2 separate regions of the Homo sapiens genome follow, and region 1 is linked to region 2. Evidence: fine-mapped expression QTL. Tissue or cell type: whole blood. Region 2 holds a variant in brackets; the other region holds the start of a gene. All regions are shown on one strand. Distances are between the middles of the regions.

Evidence for each region. PIP is the estimated chance that this variant, and not a neighbour inherited with it, causes the effect.
Region 1: it holds the start of PFN2, and the variant in region 2 is fine-mapped to the expression of PFN2 in whole blood (INTERVAL, PIP 0.98).

The regions. Positions count from the first base shown.
Region 1 is chr3:149,967,399-149,975,120 of GRCh38, forward strand. It overlaps PFN2 (profilin 2), which reads right to left and starts at 3,497. Exons shown (of 3, transcript NM_053024.4): 1 at 3,327-3,497; 2 at 960-1,152. The coding sequence starts at 3,458. It overlaps LOC646903 (a long non-coding RNA gene), which reads left to right and starts at 3,881. Exons shown (of 1, transcript NR_036538.1): 1 at 3,881-5,844. RefSeq lists silencers at 2,693-2,952, 2,973-3,022, 3,033-3,272, 3,483-3,562, 3,793-3,852 and enhancers at 3,698-4,229, 4,230-4,760.
Region 2 is chr3:149,831,750-149,839,471 of GRCh38, forward strand. All of the region lies in intron 1 of RNF13 (ring finger protein 13), which reads left to right. Among named protein-coding and RNA genes, the nearest start is that of RNF13, 22 kb to the left of the region's middle. The variant A/G (reference allele first, on the strand shown) is at 4,685.

The sequences.
Region 1 (7,722 bases), 140 kb after region 2:
TCTAATTTTCTTATAAATCCTTATAAACATCAACTCACACCAGAATACGAGTAACTTTTAGGATAATCACAGGGAGCTGGTAGAGCCATAGCATTAATTATAACTCACAGCAGCTTCAACTCCCCTCACATGGTAGAGCTGTTATTAAAATTAGATGTGCCAAGTCAGCTATGTGAGGCTACAGAAGCACTCTCTATTTACAAAATATTCGTATGCGTTAACACATTAAAATGTATTTGTAAATCAATTAGATGTCATAATAAAACTCAATTTCAAAAGTTTATTTTGAAAAAGTAGGGAGACTTCTTTAGTGCAATTAAGAGTTTCTATAATGCTGACAACAGTCTGGAGACACCTGAATTTCTGGACCAAGTATACAAACTAAATGTAATTTCCTACTTTTCAAATCTAAGTCTCAGACACAATCTTTGAAAATATTTCAGTGAATGGACAACTTACTCCAAAATCCTCATCTAATTATCTTTTCCCCAGCAAAGTTCCTAACTGAAAAATGAACGGATGTTAATTTTTCCTTCTTTATGCTGAGTAGTGAAATGGTTAGAATACAAGCAAGAAAAAAAAGAAAAGAGATCCAAAGGTCAAACACACACCAAAAGGGACTAAAATAACCAAGTGATTCGAACAATTTAACAATCTGAAACACCACAGGATTATGATTTGACATGTCAAGCAGTTTAAGAGACTTTTAAGTTTAATAAAGCTGAAAGTGAGTTCATACGAATATTCTATCGTAGAAACAAAATCAGGATCTAAGAGGCCAGGTCATAGATGCTGTAGAGTAGGTAAAACTAAAGCAGTGCTTCTCCATAGTGCTGGGCAGTTCACAAAAACCACCTTAATAGCCATTATGGACTAACTTTTATTCAAAATGTTAAAAGAAACTGCTTAATAAGTTGTAATGTGGCATGCAACTTTAACCAAAAGAATGCCTTACTCACCTCTACCAGCTCTGCCGACAGCCACATTGTATGTTGGCTCCCCACCTTGACTCTTTGTCCGGATGTCCATTGTGCAGTCACCATCGACGTATAGACTATCTCTGATCACTGAGCATTTCTTCGCGCCAAGAGTCAAACCGTTGGTAAAGAAACCTTCCCGGTCTTTTCCTACAATCATATCTATTTCTATTGGCTGCCCCCCACCAAAAAGAAAAAAAAAAAACACACACACATTAAGTTGTAGTTAACTCCTTTTAGGGCTTGATGTAACAGGAAGGGCTGTAGCTAGGCTTATGCTACCACTGCCAGATAGCCACATTTCACTAATGTAAAACCAAGATTCAGTCTTTTCTAAATAATTATTTAATCCTATATAATCACATATTTTACATGAGTTGATTTGACTTCAGTTAATGATGTCGTCTCTTAACCAAGACCAGTCTATACAAAGAAACTGTAAAGAGTTGACAGTTGACACTAGACAAAGTGCAAACTTAAAGAGTTATTTATAAACTGTATTAAGTCAGCTGGTGCCTGAAAGTGTTCACGTAATGGTAAAAATTCAGCTATCAACTCTGAACAAAGCTGGTCTATCATATTCAGTCCCATTACAGTAAATCATGTTTCATCAAATTTAAAGTTGCTTCAAAGTCTCCCAAAATAAAGCCTGTTCTTTGATGTGTTCACTTCTCTGCTTAGAGTAACTAGAAATATACGTGATGAGATGGACTTCAACCCCTGGACATCAGTGCTTTTCCAAATTCATATTTCCCTCCTATTTTTCTAGCCACGACTCCCGTTTCTTTCCAACTTCCCTTCCCCTCCCATCTCAGTAATCAGTTTTCTTTCTGGGCAAACGCAAAGTGGATTCTGTCTACAGCACTGCGGTAGGCAATAGTAAAACAGAAAAAATGGAGGGAGATTGGGAAAGAAACTGAGGTAGCCACCAGAACCGGAAAGGAGAAAACGTGCATTCTAACATTCCATGAATAAGAAGGAAGGCGTCGCCCCCATCAGAACTGCAGAGTCATAGCAGGCCCCAGCCATTTCCAAGCACACTCCCGCAATCTTCCTAGTCAGACAGCGGGAACTCACACACAAAGACAAGAGGACTGCAGGAAAAAAGTTGATGACCAGATGCCAATTCCCTACAAGAATTGTAGTCCACTGCGGGTATACGAGACCTTAAAGTACTACTATCAAGGACTGAGTTCTAAAGTTAGACTTTAAACCATGTTAAGTGGTAAAAGAATAATTAGCACCCTTAATAGGGGACCTGAATTTTGGTGCTTAATGGAAAGGGAGCGTGGTGCTAAGAAATAAAGAGAATGGTCTCGTATTTAGTACAATTATCATAATTTTAGAAACAGCCTTGGGCAGAAACAGGCAAAACAATAAGCTGGAGGTTTTGTGGCAAATATTCTCCAAACATATTGCAACCAACTCAAAACCATCAAGTCTCAAGAAAATCAGGCAATGTGAAGCATAAAACTGCATTAGTTCCTTTACTGCCACCACTAAAGAGGGAGGGACTTAGAGAAGTGAAGTGTGCTCCTGGTCTTCGCAGATAATTGAAAGCCCCCGAAAAGCACCCCTTTTTTGAGCTATGTTGCATAACTGGGGATAACCGTATATCGATGAATCTCCATATGAGAAGAGAAATCAATGGCAGTTCGCCATCTTGGAGAATTTAAAAAAAAAAAAAAAACAACCTATAGAGCTAGAGCTGAAGTCGAGATTCACGAATCCACCTACGCGGTCGGCGTACATCTCTCGCAAGCCCCAGAGGCCTGGACATCGGTAAACCTACGCAAAGTCGCTTCGAGAATCCCGGGGGCCGGGCCGGGGCCGCCGCCTCCCACAGCCGGAGGCGCGGGAGGCGCGCTGTCCGCGGAGCAAGAGCCGGCCAGAGAGCCTAGGGACCTCCACCCGGGGCCCGCGCGCCCCAGCCCGGATCCCCGACCCCCGCTTCCACCCCAGAACGTGCATAGCAAACCTCAGGGCTTCAAGAGAACCTAGGGGAACCGCACTAGGAGGAAAAAAGGAACCCCTCCCCTTGCCCTGGCCGGTGCGTGCCCCCTCCCCCAACCCGGGCACCTGGACCGACGCTGGGAACGCCGGGGGCGCCCGGCCAGGGCCAGCAAGGAGTCCGGCCGCCGCCCCCAGCCTGTCAGCGCAGCCCCGGGTGAGGGGGCGTCCCCGGGCCTCGGCCTCCCCGCCCGCCCGGCAGCCGCATCCTCGGCGCCCGCTGCCTAGCACACCTGCGGGCTCGGCCCTCAGTGTTCCAGCCCCGCGCTGCGGTGCCCCCGCGGCCGGCCACCCCGCTCCGGTGCAGGGACCAGGGTACCGGCCGCCACTGGTCCTCACCGTAATGCTCTGAAAGACGCCCCCGGCCGTGGCTGCCCAGACGTATTTGGCGTCGCAGTAGCCGACAATGGCGGCCTCCTGGCAGCAGCCATCGCACATCAGGTTATCCACGTAGCTCTGCCAACCGGCCATCTTCGAGCCCTTCGCACTGCAGCGCGGACGGCGAGGAGCAGCAGGCGCAGCGGCGGCGGCGGCGGTAGCGGGCGGCGGCGGCGCGGGGGGAGGCGGGGCGGGGGCGGGGAGGAGGCGGCTCTGCGCAGGCACCGACCGCCCCCCTCCCCGAGGAGCTGCGGCGGGAGGACGCGGGTTCAGCGATGAGGGACGAACCTCAGAGCGCGCTCGGCCGCCCGGCCGCCCGCAGCCGCGGGGCTGACAAACCAGCGGCGGGAGGCTGCGAAGCGGCTGTGCCTGTGGCGGCTGCTCCTTACCGCAGCGCCCTCCGTTTTCCGCGGACACGGCTGGGCGTGCGCGCGCGCGTGCGTGCGATCCTTCCGCGGCGCCCGGGCACGGAGGGTCCCGGGAAGGGCGGGGGGAGACTGAGGCGGGGGCGCGGAGGGATACCGCCCCGGGACAATCACGGCCGCCACGTGCGGGAGGCGCCGGCCGGGAGCGGTGGCGGGCCGAGCTTCGGACCTCGGGCCGGCGGAGAGGGTGGACCCCGCGTCGCTCTCGGCACCCCAGGAACAGCGGCGGCACGGACGCCTTGGAGCCCCGCGGCCGGGCCGCGATGTGCTTTTCTCCTGTGTTCGCTGCCCGGGATGCGGAATCTTGAGCCTCGGTGTCGGGTTACAGAGTTGTCCTGGTGACGGGATGCGGAGCGTTTCCTCCTTTTTGTTGTGGGGGCGGCTGGTGGCAGGGGCAGCTGGTGGCAGGGTTGCCCACGCTAATCTCCGAGTCTCTAAGGGCACCGTCTTTCCTGGATCCCTCTTGCGCCTCGTCCATAAAGGCAGACCCGCGGGCGCGCGCCGGCAACCTGAAATCAGAGCAGGCGTCCGTGGCGCTCAGGAACCTTGCTGAGCTTCGCCGATCTTTCATTGTTGCTTCATTTGGGTACCAAGGGCCTCTCATTCTGTGGATTCTTTGCCTGGAGGAGCCCCCTTAATGTTGCTAATCACGTGTGGTTAAATTGCTCGTAAATTCCGAACAAAACAAATAGCGACCTGTGTTACACTGTTTCTTGGTAACTGGGAAAGTTACTGGTGGCTTGAAGTATACGCAGAAAATACAAAGATTAAAAACTAGGGAAGAGTTCACTGAATGAACACCGTAACATTTCTGCTCTGCAGGGTAAAATAATTTCGGGACCCAGGTCTGGGAAAGATTTGTATTAACAAGGTAAACGGTGGGTAGAGTGCCTGAGAAGCTATTCGTATCGTCTTTGGTAGCCTCTGGGCACTAGGACTAGACATGGAATTAGGGGTCCCCCAACAATGACTTCAATTTTAGGTTAATAGAAACCATCTGCCACTTAAGGGAAAGAAAGCACCAAAATGTAGATAAGTTGATGTTCACCCTTAAAGTTATCGTGTGAGGTCATGATTTGTAGGAGGATTAAGGAATGTATCTCTGGAAAGGGCAAGAACGTTGCTTTTAAAAGTCTAATTGGTTCTGAAGTTTTATATTTTTTCTGCTGATTGCTTTAAAATGTTCAGCTACTAGAGAGAAAAAAAGTACAGTAAAAGAAACCCCCAAGTCAGAGACCTATCAGACTGAGAATATGTATTTTCTCATGTTCTAAAGATACAGAATACCTGTGTGGTGTAAAATGTGAACCAAAAATTGTTTCATTTTTGTAAGTGTGCCTCCCACCTGATTTAATTACACTTAATTGTTCTTGTTTATGACTCTGCCTTTTATGGTGATGTTGATCATTTTAGTCCTTCGATCATAGCACTGTATCATCTTAAAAGTTAATAATAGATTACTTGTAACACAGGCTCACTATGTGAGAATTCATCAAGCTGTATGTACATTTATTGTGCTCTTCATTGTATGTATAATTCAATAAATTGAAACAGTAAACGAAAAGGTAATTATAGAAAAAATACAGTGATAACTTGAAGTATGTTGAATTTTTATTAATTTACTCTGAAGGTTTTAAGATATAATTTCTAGACGTTACTATCTTATTGTTATAGCACAGAGTTGGAAATAACTACATTCTTTTCCTATTCTTTTATTGTTGGCTTTAAACAGTGAAAGAATTTGACCAACAATATTTTCTAATTCAAATCTCAAAAGATTCTAAAACACATTTCTTGGGTAAAATATTCACAAAAATTTAGAATTCTTGTCATTCTTCTATATTTTTCAAAATATAATTCATTTTAAATTACTGCTTACTTTTCCAACATGATGTTATTTTTCTAGAATTGCAAACAGTAAAATTTAAACAACTATGAAAAAAATTCTGTATAATAGATTAAATTTTACAGTTTCAATTTTTAGGTTATATATTCAAAGAGAGTCCATGTGCTGTCTTGGTTTTCAGTACTGTAATAAAGTAACCTGTGCTTTTTTGTTTGTTTGTTTATTGAGATGAGACTCCGTCACCAGGGCTGGAGTGCAGTGGCATGATCTCGGCTCACTGCAACCTCCGCTTCCTGGGTTCAAGCGATTCTCCTGCCTCAGCCTCCCAAAAGTAGCTGGGATTACAGACACCCGCCACTACGCCCAGCTAATTTTTTGTATTTTTTGTAGAGACGGGGTTTCACCATGTTGGCCAGGCTGGTCTCAAACTCCTGACCTCGTTATTCGCCTGCCTCGGCCTCCCAAAGTGCTGGGATTACAGGCATGAGCCACCATGCCCGGCCACCTGTGCTTGTTTTCTTTAGAACCAGCTTCCTTGCATGCTGCTTTATTTTCCATTTGTGTACAGTGATCCCTTCCTATTTCATCTAAGTGTTGCTTATACGTTTCAGAAAGTATAAATAGAGGTGGAATACTGAGCTTTAGTAATAACAATATTGGTTCACTTAAGTCCAAAGGAGTATCAGTGTGAGAAAAAGAATTGCCAATTTGTATCTTCCTCTACTTTTCTGAGAGTAAGTAATCCCTAGGATAATTGTAATATCTGGGCAGAAGTTTAGAAAAGTTGTGGCTGTGTTGTTGATACAAATAGCCAGAATAATGTAGCCATTAACAATCAGTAGCATATTTAAGTTTGGAGTGCATTATTATGCATTCTTTCCAGAATTATTTTATTCTTATTGAGTAAAGCAGAAACTGTGTAGTAAGCCACGTTCTTTAATGTGTAAGTCAAGTGGTGTCTGAACCACTTGAGTCCATGTAAAAATCATTTGAAATTTTAGCAAAACACAAACAAGAAATTATCTTTAAAATGTACACAACCTGATAATCATTGGGAGCAGGATCTAAAACTATACACAGTAATTACCCCCAAATTTAGTAAAACCATAATTAACCATCAGTTATTTAAAAATTTCACCGCATAGTTCATTTCTGAAAAAAGTATATGAATTATAAAATCAATATCACAGCAATAAAGTTTAGAAAATGGAGAAAAATCCTTAATCCCACAAGCTAATACAAATATCTTTTGAATGTATTCACTATGTATGATTTTTACAGTAAAGAACAAGGAGAACTTATAATTCTGCATTTGGCCATTTTACCCTGAAATTCTATGAATTTTTGCTTTTTATATTTTGAGGCTATTAGGAAAATGGAAATTTAAATTGTTATATTTTTCCTTTCTGATGAATTTATTCTTTATTATTTAGTAGTTGCCCTCTTGATCACCAATACTGCTTTTTGTCTTAAAATTTTTGTCAAATATTAAGGTAACATCCCAGCTCTCTTTTTATTGGTGTTTACCTTATATATCTTTTCGCTCCCCACCTCTCTTTCAACCTTTCTCTGTCCTTTTTATTTTGTGTCTCATAAACTTCACGCAGCTGGATTTTGTTTTTTTATCCAATATGGCAGTATAACCTTTAATTGGCAAGTTTATTCCATTTACATTCATTGTAATTATTGACATACATTTGGACTTGTTTGAACTAATTTTATTAGTCTCTTTTTTTTTCTATGCTTTTTTCTTCCTTGCCTTTAAAAAAAATGTCGGGCATGTGTGTTTTATTCTTTTTTTTTTTTCAAATTTATGCTACCAATTTTTCTTAGTGTTACCCTTAAATTTTTGCCTTGCATATTTAATACAATAAAGTTTTAAGTTAAATATCTTAAACACTACCCCTAGACAATCCAAAAACCTTAGAATGTTTTAAGTCTGGACACCTCTCTCCAGACTCTTACACAGATGTTTATGTATGTGTGTATATATATGTACTTACATGTTTGTATTTTATTTACTTACTATTCCTTTTCATATCTCAGATCATTCTATGATCATTTTTCTTTCTAAAGTACATCTTTT
Region 2 (7,722 bases):
AGGTATTTCTTCATAGCAGTATGAAAATGGACTAATACAGTATGTGTTAGAAATTCTAGTTGCCAGAATTCCTGGAAATCTTGATGCTTTTTAAGGAACACTAGGAAGTTATTGATATATTTAGGTGGTGTGTGAGCTGAGAACACTATTTTGGAGGAAATTTTATAGTGCCATATATATGTTATAAACATATGTGACCATAATCACATTTGTAGGAAAAATAACCTATTAAATGATGTGTGACTGGCTATTATAAATTTTCCACTAAAATAGTTAATTAATTGTTCGCTGATTTTTTTCTGTTAGTGCTTGGTACAGTATATATTCTTCTGATGCTTATTGTAGTATAAGGTACATTTCTTGAAAAAAACAAATTGAAATTACTCTGCCTATTCTGTTCGCAAATTAGGAAAAGATAACAATTCTTTTAGTAGTGGAATATTTTGGTCCAGTTCTTGAGATGCCAGTGAAGGTCAAGAATGTAGCTTCAGAACCAGTGGAATCTGAGCTTACTTGGTGGATTTCTTATGGAGATGGCTGGCTGTTTCATGAGTGTTATTTGGCAGTGAAGCAGTTGGTATCACACTGTTGACTCATCTTCAGAATTAAAATTTATTTGGAAGTGAATTTCCTGAAAGTAATACTGGTCTTAAAAATTCATTGTCACAGATTTAAATGTGAAGTTAGGATTTACTGTGATGCTTGGGAAATTTTCAAATTTTTCAGTGACCAGCATTAGACAAGTAACTGTCATTTATCCTCCAAAACCATACAGATAATCATGTGTACCAGCCAGTTTGCTCATTTTCTCAAAAATGAGGCCAAGAGAAAACTCAGCCAAACCAACAATTGGTTTTTAAAAAAAATCTATGAAATTAACAAATCTTTCATTATAGTGACTAAAGAAAACAAGAGAGGAGACTCAACTAAAATCAGAAATGAAAGAGGGGACACAACTACCAATTTTATAGAAATAAAAAGGATTGTAAAAGTACTATAAACAATTTTATGCCAAGAAATTGGATAACCTAGATGAAATGGATGAATACCTGGAAAGACACAACCTCCCAACACTGAATCATGAAAAAATAGAAAGCTTGCACAGACCTATGGGAGATTGAAGCAATAATCAAAAACATTCCAAGAAAGAAAAGCCTGGGATCAGATGGCTTCATTGGTGAATTCTACCAAATATTTAAGGAAGAATCAACATCAATTTTTCTCAAACTCTTCCCAAAAAACTGATAAAGAGGGAACACCTCCTAACTTATTCTAAGGGGCCAAAATTACCCTGGTACCAAAGTCAGACAAGGATACTAAAAAAAGAAAGAAAAGAAAACTACATAACTTATCGTTCTCTCTCTCTCTCTTTTTTTTTTTTTTTTTTTGAGATGGAGCCTCACTCTGTTGCCTAGGCTGGAGTGCAATGGTGTGATCTTGGCTCACTGCAACCTCTGCCTCCCAGGTTTAAGAGATTCTCCTGCCTCAGCCTCCCGAGTAGCTGGGATTACAGGTGCCTGTCACCACACCCAGCTAATTTTTGTATTTTTAGTAGAGGCAGGGTTTCACCATTTTGGCCAGGCAGGCCATTATCTCTTATGACTGCTGATGTAAAAATCCTCAACAAAATGCTAGCAAACTGAATTCAGCAGCACGTTAAAAGCATTATACACATGACCAAGTTGGACTTATTCTTGGAATGCAAGGATGGTTCTACATGTGAAAAGTGTTATAGTCAATGTAATGTACCACATTAAGAGAATAAAAACACATAATCACTTCAATAGATGCAGAAAAAGCATTTCACAGAATTTAACACTCTTTCATGATAAAACACCCAACAAACTGAAAATAGAAGGAGACTACCTCAGAATAAAGGCCATGTGTAAAAAACCGACAACTAATATAATTGGTCATAAAAGACTGAAAGCTTTTCCTCTAAGATCAGGAACAAGACAAGGATTCCTGCCTTTGCCATTTCTATTTATCTTGGCACCAGAAGTCCTAGCCAGAGCAATTAGGCAAGAAAGAGAAATGAAAGGCATCAAAATTAGAAAGGAATAAGTAAGATTACCATTGTAAGCAGATGATATGACCTTACATGTAGGCAATCTAAGATTCCACAAAAGAAAAAATATCTGATAGAACTATTAATAATAAATGAATTCAGCAAAGTTGCAGGATACAAAATCACACACAAAAATCAGTTGCATTCCTATAAAGTAACAGCGAACTATCCAAAAAGGAAATTAAGAAAACAATTCCATTTACAATATCAACAAAAATAAAATAGTAATAAATTAAACCAAGGAGGTGGAAGAATTGTACACTGAAAATTGTAAGACTTTGCTGAAATAAAGAGGACATAAATAAATGAATAGACATTCCATGTTTATGGATTGATAGACTTAATACTGTTAAGATGTCAGTACTACCCAAAGAAATCTATGGATTCAATGTAATATTATCAAAATCGCAATAACCTTCTTGCAGAAATAGGAAAATCTATCCTAAACCATATATGGAATCTCAAGGGACCCCAAATAGCCAAAACAAAGTTGTAGGTCGTATACTTCCTGATTTCAAAACTTAACTACAAAATTCCAGTAATTAAAATAGTGTGGTACTGGTGTAAAGATAGACATATAGAGCAATGGAATAGAATAAAGAGCTCAGGAATAAAGCCTCACATACATGCTCAAATAACTTTTGACAGAAGTCCTCCTATGGTTTGGAAATGGTTTGTCTGGCCCCACCAAGTCTCATATTGATATTTGATCCCCAGTATTGGAGGTAGGGTCTGATGGGAGCTATTTGGATTATGGGGGTAGATCCCTCATGAATGGCTTGATGCCGTTCTCATGGGAATGACTGAAATTTCACTCTTAGTTCTTTTGAGAACTGGTGATTGAAAAGAACTTGGCACTTTCTTCCCTCTCTCTCACTTGCTGCTCTTGCTGTGTGATGGGCTCCCTTTTGCCTTCTGCCATGAATGGAAGCAGCTTGAGGTCCTCACCAGATATAGATGTTGGTACCATCCTTCTTGTACAGCTTACAGAACTGTGGGCCAAATAAACCTCTTTTCTTTATAAATTACCCAGCTTCAGATATTCCTTTATAGCGACACAAATGGACTAAGGTGTCAAGATCATTTGATAGAGAAAGGCATTGTACACAGTCTCTTCTACAAATGGTGTGTTGGGAAAACTGAATATCTGTATGTAAAAGAATGAATTTGACCTTTACCTTATACCATATGCAACAGTTAACTCAAAATTGATCAGAGATCTAAACATAAGAGCTACTATGTAAAACTCTTAGAGGAAAACATAAAGAAAGCTTCACAACATTGGAATTGTCAATAATTTCTTGGGCAGGACACCAAAAGCACAGGCAAGAAAAGAAAAAAATAGATGTTTGACTTCATGAAAATTAAAACTTCTTGTGCATTGAAGGACAGTACCAACAGGGTGAAAAAAATGAGAGAAAATACTTTTCAATCATATATTTTATAAGGAATTGCTGTCTAGAATATATAGAGAATTTAAAAAATTTTTTTATTTCCATAGGTTTTTGGGGAACAGGTGGTATTTGGTTACATGAGTAAGTTCTTTAGTGGTGATTTGTGAGATTTTGGTGCATCCATCACCTGAGCAGTATACACCTTCACCCCCTCCTACCCTTTCCCCTGAGTCCCTAAAGTCCATTGTATCATTCTTATACCGTTGCATTCTCGTAGCTTAGCTCCCACTAACGAGTGAGAACATACGATGTTTGGTTTTCCATTCCTGAGTTACTTCACTAGGAATAATAGTTTCCAGTTCTATCTAGGTTGCTGCAAATGCCATTAATTAATTCATTTTTATGGCTGCGTAGTATTCCATTGTGTGTGTGTGTGTGTGTGTGTGTGTGTGTGTTTGTGTGTGTGTGTGTGTATGTGTGTACCACAATTTCTTTATCCAGTAGTTGATTGATGGGCATTTGGGCTGGTTCCATATTTTTGCAATTGTGAATTGTGTTGTTATAAACGTGTGTGCAAATATCTTTTTTTTATGACTTTTCTCCTGGGTTGGGATTGCTGGATCCCCAGTAGTGGGATTGCTGGATCCCCAGTACTGGGATTGCTGGATTCCCAGTACTGGGATTGCTGGATTCCCAGTACTGGGATTGCTGGATCAAATGGTAGTTCTACTTTTGGTTCTTTAAGGAATCTCCACATTGTTTTCCATAGTGGTTGTACTAGTTTACATTCCTGCCAGCAGTGTAGAAGTGTTCCCTTTCACCACATCCATGCCAACCTCCATTTTTTAAAATTTTTTTGATAATGGCCATTCTTGCAGGAGTAAGGTGGTATTGCATAGTGGTTTTGATTTGCATTTCTCTGATCACTAGTGATGTTGAGCATTTCTTATTTTGTTTGTTGGCTATTTGTGTATCTTCTTTTGAGAATTGCCTATTCATGTCCTTAGCCCACTTTTTGATGGGATTGTTAACTCAGTGGCAAAAAACCAAGCAACCCAATTAAAAAATGAACATAGGAGCTGAATAGACATTTTTCCAAAGAAGACATACAAATGGCCAAAAAGTACATGAAAAGATGCTCAACATCACTAATCATTGGGGAAGTGCAAGTCAAGACCACAATGAGATACCACTTTACATGTATTTTAGTATGGCTATATGT[A/G]TATATATATATTGTATATATATGTCTATCATAAAATAGATTTAAAGTGGTATCTCATTCTGGTCTTGAAGGAAAACAACATAAAATAGCAAATGTTGGCAAGGATGTGAAGAAATAGTAACTGTTTGTGCATTATTTGTGGGAAAGTAAAATGGTGCAGCCACTTTGGAAAATGGTATGGCAGTTCTTTAAAAAAAAAAAATCAAACGTAGAATTACCATATGATCCAGCAATACTTCTGGGTATATGCCACAAATAATTTAAAGCAGGAACTCAGTTATTTTTTTCACAATAGCTAAAAGATCTAAGCAACCCAAGTGTCAATTGAGAGATGAATGGATCAGTAACATGGGGTATGTACATATAATGGAATATTACTCAGCCTGCTAAGGAAGGAAATTTTCACATGTGGTACAACACTTCAAGATATCATGCTAAGTGAAATAAGCTAGTCACAAAAGGACAAATATTGTATGATTCCACTTATATTAGGTAGTTAGAGTAGTTGAATTTATAGAAACAGAAAATAAAATTGTGCTTGCCAATGGCCAGGGGATGGGGCATGGGTAATTAATGTGTACCAGGTTTCAGTTTGGGAAGATGAGAAAATTCTAGGGATGGATTGTGGTAATATTTGCACAACAATGTGAATATAGTTAATGTTACTGAACTGTATACTTTAAAATTTTTTATATGGTAAATTTTATGTCTGTATGCCACATTAAGAAAAGAGGCTGAAGGCCTTCTGAAAAGATCACTGAAGAGTTAAAATAATTTTTCATGCATTTAGTAAACTTTTTATTATATAAATTCTCAAACATATAGAAAAGCAGAGAAATAGTGTAATGAATCTCAATGTAATCTTCACCTAGATTTATAGTGTGTTTTTTTCTGAAGTGCTTTAAATGACAGATATCATGACATTTCTTTCCTAAGTACTTTACTATAATAGATAGCTCCCCAAATAAGGACTTTTTCATACAGCTATTGTATTAGTCCTTTTTCACACTGCTGATAAAGACACCTGAGACTGGGCAATTTTCAAAAGAAAGAGGTTTAATGGACTTACAGTTCCACATCACTGGAGAGGCCTCACAATCATGGCAGAGGGTGAAAGGCACGTCTCACATGGTGGCAGACAAGAGAAGAGAGCTTGTGCAGGGCAACTCTCCTTTATAAATCCATCAGATCTCATGAGACTTATTCATTATCACGAGAATAACATGGGGAAGACCTGCCTCCATGATTGAATTACCTCCTGCCGGGTCCCTCCCACAACACATGGGAATTCAAGATGAGATTTGGGTGAGGACACAGCCAAACCATGTCATTCTGCCCTGGCCCCTCCCAAATCTCATGTCCTCATATTTCAAAACCAATCATGCCTTCCAAAAGTCCCCCAAAGTCTTAATTCATTTCAGCATTAACTCAAAAGTCCACATTCCAATGTCTCATCTGAGACAAGGCAAGTTCCTTCTGCCTATGTGCCTGTAAAATCAAAAGCCAATCAGTCACTTCCTAGATACAATGGGGGTACAGGCATTGTGTAAATACAGCTGTTCCAAGTGGGAGAAATTGGCCAAATCAAAAGGGCTACAGGCCCCATGCAAGTCCAAAATCCAGCGGGGCAGTCAAATCTTAAAGCTCCAAAATGATCTCCTTTGACTCCTTGTCTCACATCCAGGTCACGCTGATGCAAGAGGTAGGTTCCTATGGTCTTGGGCAGCTCCTCCCTGGTGGCTTTACAGTGTACAGCCTTCCTCTTGGCTGCTTTCATGGGCTGGCGTTGAGTGTCTACGGCTTTTCCAGGTGCACGGTGCAAGTTGTTGGTGGATCTACTATTCTGGCGTCTGGTGGACAGTGGTCCTCTTCTCACAGCTCCACCAGGTGGTGCCTCAGTAGGGACTCTGTGTGGGGGCTCCAACCCCATATTTCTCTTCCACACTGCCCTAGCAAAGGTTCTCCATGAGGGCTCTGCCCCTGCAGCAAACTTTTGACTGGGGATCCAGGCATTTCCATACAGATTCTGTAATCCAGGCAGAGGTTCCCAAGCCTCAATTCTTGACTTCTGTGCACCTGCAGGCTCAATACCACGTGGAAACTGCCAAGGCTTGGGGCTTGCATCCTCTGAAGCCAGGGCCCAAACTGTACCTTGGCTCTGTTTAGCCACGGCTGGGATGCAGGGCACCAAGTCCCAAGACTTCACAAAGCAGCAAGGCCCTGGGCCCAGCCCAGCAAGCCATTTTTTCCTCCTAGGCCTCTGGGCCTGTGATGGGAGAGGCTGCCATGACAACCTCTGACATGCCCTGGAGACATTTTCCCTATTTTCTTGGCAATTAACATTTGGCTCCTCGTTACTTAAGCAAATTTCTACAGCTGGCTTGAATGTCTCCTCAGAAAATGGGTTTTTCTTTTCTATTGCATCATCAGGCTGCAAGTTTTCTGAACTTTTATGCTCTGCTTCCCTTAAACATAAGTTCCAATTCCAAACCGTATTTTTGTGAATGAATAAAACTGAATGCTTTTAAGAGTACTCAAATCACCTCTTGAACAGTTTACTGCTTAGAAATTTCTTCCGCCAGATACCCTAAATCATCTCTCTCAAGTTAAAAGTTCCACAAATCTCTAGGGCAGGGACAAAATGCCACCAGTCTGTTTGCTAAAGCATATCAAGAATCACCTTTTCACCAGTTCCCAATAAGTTCCTCATCTCCTTCTGAGACCACTTCAGCCTGAACTTCATTGTCCATATGACTATCAGCATTTTGGTCAAAACCATTCAACAAGTCTTTAGGAAGCTCCACATTTTCCCACATTTTCCTGTCTTCTTCTGAGCCCTCCAAACTGTTCCAACCTCTGCCTGTTATCCAGTTCCAAAGTCACTTCCCTTTTAAACTAAGTTTTCTGGTATCTTAATAGCAGTACCCACTCCACTGGTACCAATTTACTATGTTAGTCCATTTTCATACTGCTATGATGAAATACTCAAGACTGGGTAATTTATAAAGAAAAAGAGGTTTAATGGACTGACAGCTCTA